Linked DNA regions of Homo sapiens: region 1 is linked to region 2. Evidence: fine-mapped expression QTL. A gene starts in region 2. The other region holds a variant in brackets. All regions are shown on one strand. Distances are between the middles of the regions.

The links.
Region 1: its variant is fine-mapped to the expression of CERK in whole blood (TOPMed, PIP above 0.99).

What each region holds. Positions count from the first base shown.
Region 1 is chr22:46,684,110-46,688,491 of GRCh38, reverse strand. It overlaps CERK (ceramide kinase), which reads left to right. Exons shown (of 13, transcript NM_022766.6): 13 at 1,286-4,082. The coding sequence ends at 1,358. Among named protein-coding and RNA genes, the nearest start is that of CERK, 52 kb to the left of the region's middle. RefSeq lists a silencer at 1,886-2,180. The variant G/A (reference allele first, on the strand shown) is at 1,944.
Region 2 is chr22:46,735,577-46,739,958 of GRCh38, reverse strand. CERK (ceramide kinase) reads left to right here and starts at 1,707. Exons shown (of 13, transcript NM_022766.6): 1 at 1,707-1,952. The coding sequence starts at 1,811. It overlaps LOC105373077 (a long non-coding RNA gene), which reads left to right and starts at 3,567. Exons shown (of 2, transcript XR_001755593.2): 1 at 3,567-3,656. RefSeq lists enhancers at 865-1,194, 568-1,226, 2,465-2,634, 3,322-3,895 and a silencer at 1,355-2,314.

The DNA of each region.
Region 1 (4,382 bases), 51 kb after region 2:
GCTGTCGAAAGGTCCCAGGAACACCGGCCACCCCAGGCAGCCGTGCACAGGGACTTTCCTCTGTCAACTCATTTGACAAGTTTGGGAAGTGGGATTATTTTTAATATTGGTGTATGTATTTATTAAAGAAATAGAATAATTTGAAAATCAGGACAGGCATTCTTGAAATACGTCCTGTCTATCTTGATAAATATGGCTATGCCTTGAGCAGCACGTCGCTTTTAAAAATATAATTTGTGTGTGTGTGAGCTCAGCTCCATGGAAACAGCCTGTCACTTATTTATTTCTATTTTTTTATTTTTTGAGACAGAGTTTTGCTCTTGTTGCCCAGGCTGGAGTGCAATGGCGAGGTCTCGGCTCACTGCAACCTCTGCCTCCCAGGTTCAAGCAATTCTCCTGCCTCAGCCTCCCAAGTAGCAGGCGCCCGCCACCACACCTGGCTAATTTTTATATTTTTAGTAGAGACGGGGTTTCACCATGTTGGCCAGGCTGGTCTCAAACTCCTGACCTCAGGTGATCCGCCCGCCTGGACCTCCCAAAGTGCTGGGATTATAGGCGTGAGTCACTGTGCCCTGCCCCAGCCTGTCACTTAATGAAGGGGTTTAGGTTACTGAAATACGTCTGAGGAGGCTGTGATATCATTAATAAATGAGATAAATAGAGCTGTCCTGTGTGGGAAGATGGCACTCACCCACGGACTCACTGTGGCCACCGAGCCCCTGGGCAGGGGACCTCCAGGGACCCCCAACTTGTTCCTCAAGCCCGAAGGCTCTTGCTGGCGTTGGGCCACCTGTCCTTCTCATCTGAGCATTCCTCACACATCTCTTACACGCATTGAGTCGCCCCGCACAGACTCCTCGCAGGCCTTGCGCGCTCAGTACTGCTGAGAAAATGGAGGTGGGTGGGTGGGTGGAGTGGGCAGACACTGGAGCGGACGCTCTGCTTTCCATGGGGGTGCTGGAGTTCGAGTCAGGTCTACCGATGCCCAGATTTCCCACCTGGCCATTGGCAACCCCTTTACAAACTCGGCATCCCGGGAGTCTAAGTGAATTATTCCACGCCCAGGGCCCGTCATTGTGGGCTGGACTCCTACAGCCCACGGTGACGTCTGACCGTTCCATGGGGGATGGACCCCCACTTCAGCCCCTGTCCAAGAGCGGTGCTCAGGGCCAGCTTTGAGTGAGGGACACGTGGGGTTTACTGCAGCCCCTGTCCAGGAGTGGGGCTCAGGCCAGCTTTGAGTGAGGGACACGTGGGGTTTACACGTGGCCGCTTGTCTCTGCAGAGTCCACTGCCAGCTGGTTCGACTCTTTGCACGAGGAATTGAAGAGAATCCGAAGCCAGACTCACACAGCTGAGAAGCCGGCGTCCTGCTCACAAACTGGGAAAGTGTGAAAACTATTTAAGATAATTATTACAGACCAATTATGTTGATATATACATTTAAATGTAGAAATTTATTTTTGATAGTTAAATCTTGATTTTAGAAGAAAACCCTTTTGTCAACAATTTTGTGTACATATTTGGCATTTTCAGTTCTGTACGCATCTGCGGGTTGCAGCCCACGCCGCTTACTCTCAGCGGATGCAGCTGCTCACTTGGGGGCACTGGCCTCTTAGGTTTTAACGATGTCAACAGTGTAGTTTAGAAAATGGCCCGTTAGTGGCTCTATTGCAATAATGTTAGGGACATTATATGATTTCCACGCAGGTCACACCATCTGGGCCTGAGGTAGCAGTGGGTCACTTTGATCCACTTTGCAGGACTTATTCTGTAACGGTTTGTGGCCAAGTTTTGGGAAGTGGTTGATTCTCTTTGCCTTCATTTCACCTTCCTCTTCGTTTACGGTTAGGACATCGCTGCTTGATCCTTACAATACTGTGCAACTGCAATGCAACGTGGCCCTGCTTCAGGTGATCCGCGGGAGGGGCCTCCACGCCAGC[G/A]CCGGGAAGGCTGCTGGGGCCTCCACACCTGCCTCATCACGGCGGCGAGGCTACGACAATCCGGCTGGGAGCATGACCTTGGCGTCTGTTCTGGGAGCACGGATGATAAGCTCTGGAAGCTGGCAGTGTGTAAAGCACTGGCAAGTTTGTTACTGTTAAAATGTCAAATACCAATGCTTTATATCGACGCGAAGTGCTTAACACAGCCGGGCTTGGGGGCAGTCAGGAGGAAGCTGGCCATCCGTGGAGGAGGGGCCGGTCCTGGACTCCCGCAGGACTCCTCTGAGGCAGGGCCTGAAGTCTGTACACGTGGTCCAGATTTGTCCTTGTCTTTTCTTCACACTGAGTTCTCTATATTTATTGAACATCTTGTCCTTTTAAGCCAGAGTAGTGTAAACTGCGTCTCGGATGTCTGTCTTTTGCCTCGAAGCCACGATGGATCGCTGGTTTCCTCTGCAGCGCGAGGGCTCCGGCGACCAGAGGATTCTTCCCGGAAGGCATTCCTGCCGCGCTCCCCGGGGCACCCCTCAATTGTGTACTACGTCCTTGTTTAGTGTGTATCCGTGCCCACGTAGATGATGTCTGTAACGTAGTTTTGTTTGAAATATGAGAATATGCGGCTTAAACTTTGATCTGTAAGGAGCGGGGCCGTGGCCGTTTGGAGCACGCTGTAGACACCGTTCCTCATGCTGCCGGGTGGGTTTTGCAGAAGCTCCCTTAGTGATTTCATGTTTAACAGGCAGCATCCATTTTCAGAATTTCCTGGCATTGATTTATATTTTGAAGCATACAGGAAACTTCTCGTTTCCTCGTTTAGCCCCACCCAGATCAGGTGAAAGGGCAGCTTTAATGGTGGTTTTTATGGACCACATTATCAGAGAGCACTGTGCAAGCCAAATGGTTCAATAATGAATGAAAATTCTGGGTGTAAAGAGTAAATATGCCCTGGCTCTTTCTACCAATGTTTGCTCCTGGTTGGAAAGAAACCAAAGATTTAAGACGGGCTGCTCTTCCAGACTGGCTGTGCCTGCCTGTGCCCAGCAACCTGTGCAGCCGGCAGTGTGCCTGGTGTCACGCCAGGAGGCTGTGGCTGCTGTGGGCCCTCTGGAATTGTGCTCCTCACAAAGTTTCCCCAAAAGGTTCTTCTAAGCCTTTATTGTCCCTGGTAAATGTTTCCCGGCTGGGCGCGGTGGCTCACGCCTGTAATCCCAGCACTTTGGGAGGCCGAGGCGGGTGGATCACCTAAGGTCAGGAGTTTGAGATCAGCCTGCCCAACATGGTGAAACCTCGTCTCTACTAAAAATACACAACTTAGCCAGTCTTGTTGGCGCACGCCTGTAATCTCAGCTACTAGGGATGCTGAGGCAGGAGAATCGCTTGAACCCAAGAAAGAGGTGGAGGTTGCGGTGAGCCAAGATTGCGCCACTGCACTCCAGCCTGGGCAAACAGAGGGAGACTCCATCGCCCCCCCCAACAAAAAAAAAAGTTTCCCATACACTGGCCTGCCCCAAAACCCACTAACAATTTTAGCAAAACAGTCCAGGCCAAAGAGGAAGCATTTCATGTTCAATAAGAAACCCAGCCATTCCGCATGGCTGGTTCCTGAGTGGCTCTGGTGATACTCTCCAGCCACCTGCTGACATTCAGAATCTCAGACCTCGGGACTGCTGTTGCGGTACCGTGTGTCTGACACCTGCCAGCAGCCCTTTGCTATCTGCGCGCAGGATGGGGGTGACTGCCCAGACATTCCCGCTAGATAGGCTCTGATTTCCGGGGCAGCCTTTCAGATGCGGCAGACATACAACACCTGTACTTTAGAGTTTTAAGGGAAAAAAAATCAGAAGTGCTGGTTAGATAGTAAAAACTTAGGATAACTTAGAAAGGCTAGTTTTAGCTTCCTTTGTGGCTCCCTGGTGCAAAACAATTAGCAGTTATGCAATGGACCTGATTCTAGTTTATTCTAATTAAGAAGTGAGGCCGAGTTTGACTTCGTTCCTGAATACAATCTTGAGTAACTGGGAAAGTCTGAGTGAAAGGATGGCCTCATTCTCTTTCTAATCTTGCTGGTTTCAAGATTAGAAAATGGCATTATTTGATCTGAAATGTTTGAGAAGACACGAATAAAGTTACTTGGGCAGACTTGGCTTGCTTTCTTTCCTTTACACATACCTGTTATTTTCAAAGCAGAATATTTTTCATGAAAACACACACAATTTAAAGAACAAGAATAAAATGAAGCAAGGTGTCACCACCACCTATGCCAGGCAACTGAACGCCGCCCCGAAGCCTTCTGTGCCCTGCTCTGGAGTCCCCCCGCTCCCCCTGGGAGGGCGCTACGAGGTCACGCCAAGCGCATCCCTTCCTGCCTCTGTCCATGGCTGTATCTGCAACAGCGAGTTTAGTTTTGCAGGTTTTGCTCCTTATCCAAAGGAAACGTGT
Region 2 (4,382 bases):
TCAACATTTCCTCTTCTTGTAAGGACGCGCTGGATGAGGGCCCACCCTAACAGCCTCATTGAATCTCCTGTGTGTTTTGTAACTGATGTTGCTGTCTCCCCCAACGGAGCTCCTTCGGGGCCTAAGCACTTCTGAGTCGTCTCTGGGCCCCCACCTCTGGCTGCAGGATTTTAAGCCAAGGCGTGCAGCCGGGGGACAGCAACGTGAATACGCCGGGAGGGGCACGGGGAGCCTAAGCACAGGGAGGCCCAGGGAAGGGGTCCCCAGTAGGGACGCTGGTGCTCTCGGGCCCCTGCCCATGCCACCCTTGCCTGCCAACCCTCTTCGCATGCAGCGGCACCCTCCTGCCACTGGCATGAGCTTTTCTTTCCAAGTAAGTTTCAGATCCACATTTCCCAGGCCTCAGAGCGGCAGCTGAGGGAGGGAGGAGGCTGGGCAGGCCTCGCTGCTGCACACCCCACTGTGTGCCACGATCAGGTACTGCCTGCTAGGACTCTGACTGGGCCCACGGTGGCTGCAGGACTGTCCTGGGGCCTTCACTGCATGGCCTGAACAGGGGCTGGGCTCCCAGGGAGGAATGATTCATGGCTGGTTCCCGCCCTATAGACAAGACAGTCACAAGGAGCTGGCAGGGTAAGACCTGTATATGCTGCCACCTGGTGCCAGGCACAGCAGCAAGGCCACGTGGACCTAGCCCACCTCACCTCTGCCTGCAGCAGCAGGGCTGGGTAGGGGAGCCGAGGGGAGGGGCAGGCCTCAGACCTCAGTGTCACATCCAGGCAGTGTCAGTGTGAGCCTAGGCTCTGCCACACTGGAGCCCTGTGCTCTTGGGCAAGTGACTTAACCTCTGTGAGCACAGTCTTCACTGATAAATCAGGGAGGGATGTGCCCTCCGAACCAGGTTGTGGCTGCTTCCTATGGGGCTGTGTTAAGCACTGCGGACGCAGAGACTGGAGCTTGCATGAAGGCGCACGGCGTGCTCTGAAGGCAGGGCTGGAGTCCCTGCAGGCTGGTGATTCCTTCAGCTGTGGGGTCAAGGAGGCCTTCCTGGGGAGGCGGTGAATTGGGGCCACAGGGGCCGTGTCTCTCCAAGTCTGGGGCCCAGGCTCCGGTTCCTAGGGCCAGCTCGGGGGCGGCTGCTCAGCTGTCTGCTCTGTGGCTTCAGGCCCCAGAGCAGTTCAAAGGGCCAGCGCCCCCGCCCCCTAAAAAGACCTCCGCCTCCTGAAAGCCTTACCTGCCTGTCGGGGCCCAGCTGCAGGCCCCCTCCCAGGCCGACAGGACGCCAGGATCGTAGAGGGCACCCGCCGCCCAAGGTCACGTCGCCCGTGGCGCCCCCATCCAGGCCCGCCCCCCGCCGCGCCCGATCGCCAGGACTGCGTTTCCACGCCGCCCGGACCCCGCCTGAACCGAGGCCCGCGCGGAAGGCGCCACTGAGTCCCGGCCGGCCGCGGGAGCGCCAGATTCAGCACCCGGCACCCGCCGGAGAAGAGAGGAGAGAAAGGCAGCCGCCTCCCGGCCCCAGCGCCCTGGCCTCGGCCAGCCCCATCCCGGCCCCTTCCTCCTCCCTCTTCTCCCCTTCTCGGGTCCCCCCGTCTCTCCCTGGCTCCCGGCCCCTCCTCTACCCACGCCTCCTCCTCGCCCCCGCCCCGCCCGTCCCCTCCGCGGTCCCCGCCGCCCGCGTACGGGGTGACGCAGCGCCGCCTCCCGCCGCCCGCCGCCCGCCGCCCGGGCCACTGCAGGGGCCGCTAACGGTCCGGCGCCCCTCGGCGTCCGCGCGCCCCCAGCCTGGCGGACGAGCCCGGCGGCGGAGATGGGGGCGACGGGGGCGGCGGAGCCGCTGCAATCCGTGCTGTGGGTGAAGCAGCAGCGCTGCGCCGTGAGCCTGGAGCCCGCGCGGGCTCTGCTGCGCTGGTGGCGGAGCCCGGGGCCCGGAGCCGGCGCCCCCGGCGCGGGTGAGTGTCGCCGCCGCCCGGGTTCGGCCGGACCTGGCCAGGGAGCGGGGGCGGCTTGGGGGACCCGGCTGGGGGGACCGGGTGCAGGGAGCGAGCGGCTGTGGTAAGGCCGGGGGCCCTGGGAGCGCAGGCGCCAGGGAGGGGTCGGGGCAGGCGGGAGGGAGGCCGGGGCCAGGGGCCGGGCTGTGCGCCGCCGTCTGCTCCGGGAACCCGAGGACAAAGCGCCGCGCAGTGGAGGGGAGGCCGGCGCCCCATCCCCGCGGGGAGGTGGGACCCGGGGCGCGGGGTCGTGGCCCCCGGTGCGGTCTGTCCGCAGGGCACCTCTGGACAAGACGGACTGTGGATGGATCCCGAGGGGGGGTGCCAGGCGCTCCCCACCGCGCGCATTGCAGTTTACTCCAAGAACAGATGCTTTTCTTTAGCAGGGATCCGAAACCTGAGAGGCGCCCTTGCAGGGTGAGGACTTCCTGTTAAGAAGTTAAAGAAGGGGCCCCTGACTTTCTGTGGGGTGTGCTCCCTGCTCGGGATGGGGGAATTGGTTTCCGTGCCACGGGTTGGCTACTTGCCCCGCAGAGGCCCTCCGGATGAGGAGAAGAGTGACTTTGGTAAACATGGAGGACGCATAGCCCACCCTGGAGAGAGCCCTGCAGGAGGACAGAGGGTTTGTTTTTGTTTTTTGTTGTTTTTTGTTTGTTTTTTGTTTTTTTTTTTTTTTGAGTCGGAGTGTTGCTCTGTTGCCCAGGCTGGAGTTCAATGCCACGATCTTGGCTCACTGCACCTCCGCCTCCTGGGTTCAAGCAATTCTCCCTGCCTCAGCCTCGGAGTAGCTGGGATTACAGGAGCCCGCTACTACGCCCGGCTAATTTTTGTATTTTAGTAGAGACAGGGTTTCACCATGTTGGCCAGGCTGGTCTTGAATTCCTGACCTCAGGTGATCTGCCCACCTCAGCCTCTCAAAGTGCTGGGATTACAGGTGTGAGCAACCGCACCCAGCCTTTTTTCTTTTTAATTATTGGGGTGGGTGTGGCAGAGGCCAGGATTCATGCTGGATGTGCGGAGCTGGAATGGGGTGGGTGTGGCGGAGGCCAAGATTCTCTGGTGGATATTCGGAGCCTGGGATGACACCTTTAGACCCTGTGGGCAGTCGAGGTCAGGAGTTCTTCTGGGCGCTTTCTGGTGCTGAGTGGTGAGGATCTGTGGGTTGGGTTCTGGTGGGGACAGAGTTGAACGTTAGGTGGGGCCAAGGTCGAGGGGTGGTCTCAGACCCATGACCAACACTTGGTTTCCAGCCCTGGGGTCACCTATCTGTGGCTGGGCATCTGAGACTTGACTTTCCTAAGGTATTTCTCATGTCCCCTTTGGTAGAAATGTCACACCCCAAATATCACCCACCAGGGCCCACACACAAGGAGAACAGGTGCCTGACCTGGGCCCGAAGGGTTTGTACTTTGTTGTAAATCCCTAGGCTTCAGGAAGATGACTGCCTCCCCCAAGCACTTCCTAAGTGCGGGCCACTGGGCTTCAAACCGGATGGGTTCCTGAGAGGCAGCTGCTCCCGTCCTAGGGATGCAGGGGCCGATCTGCAGGGGCTGGAAGTGACTGGCCCAATTAGCTGCTGTGCTTGTAGCCACTGGGCTGTAAGGCTTCCCTCAGGCTCCAGCCGCCGCAGAGACGCCAGACCCTTACAGGGCATCTGTGTGGGAGGTCAGTCATCACTGCTTTCTGCCTTGGCGTCCCCAGCCAGCTCCCATTATGGTTTCTGGTCCCCCAGGTCAGGGCTTGGTGTGGTGTGGCGTCTGCTTTTGTCCAGCCTGCTGGGGTTTGCCTCTTGGCATGCTAATTGCTTCACTCTTGCTAAGCCAAGGTGCTTTTGTGCGGGTTCATCCTGAGCTGCCTGACTGGCCTGCCAGGAGCTTGGTCCCTCTTGGAGAGGGAGGGCCCTGGTTTGTGGGGCCATGGATGGTGGGGCCCTGGCTGGTGGCCCTGGCTGGTGGGCTTCCTCCAGGAAGCAGCCTGCCCTCTCCACCCAGGAGTGCTCTCCCATGCAATGGGAAAACATCAACAAGTTGGGAAACGCTAAGTTGTGAATGAGTTCAGGAATACAGCCACACTGTCTCTAGTTTTTTTCTCATAGCTTTACAGTCCCCAAAAGGAATCAGGCCCAGGTTCGATTCTTCTATGCTTGAGGTCAGTAGGGCCATAGTAGGGCAGAAGAATGTGAACCAGCTCACAGGACATTTAATTTGGTCAGCAAGGTGGCATTGCCCAGCCCTCCCCATTCCCCCAGGTGTATCTGGGCACACTGGGATTGATTAGGTTGAGGAATGATGAGAGGTGGAGAATTGTGCAAAAACTGGCCCTAGGAGGACCTGTGAGATGAGGCAGGAGCAGCCCTGGAGCTCCAGGTGACCAATGGGCTAAAGACAAAGC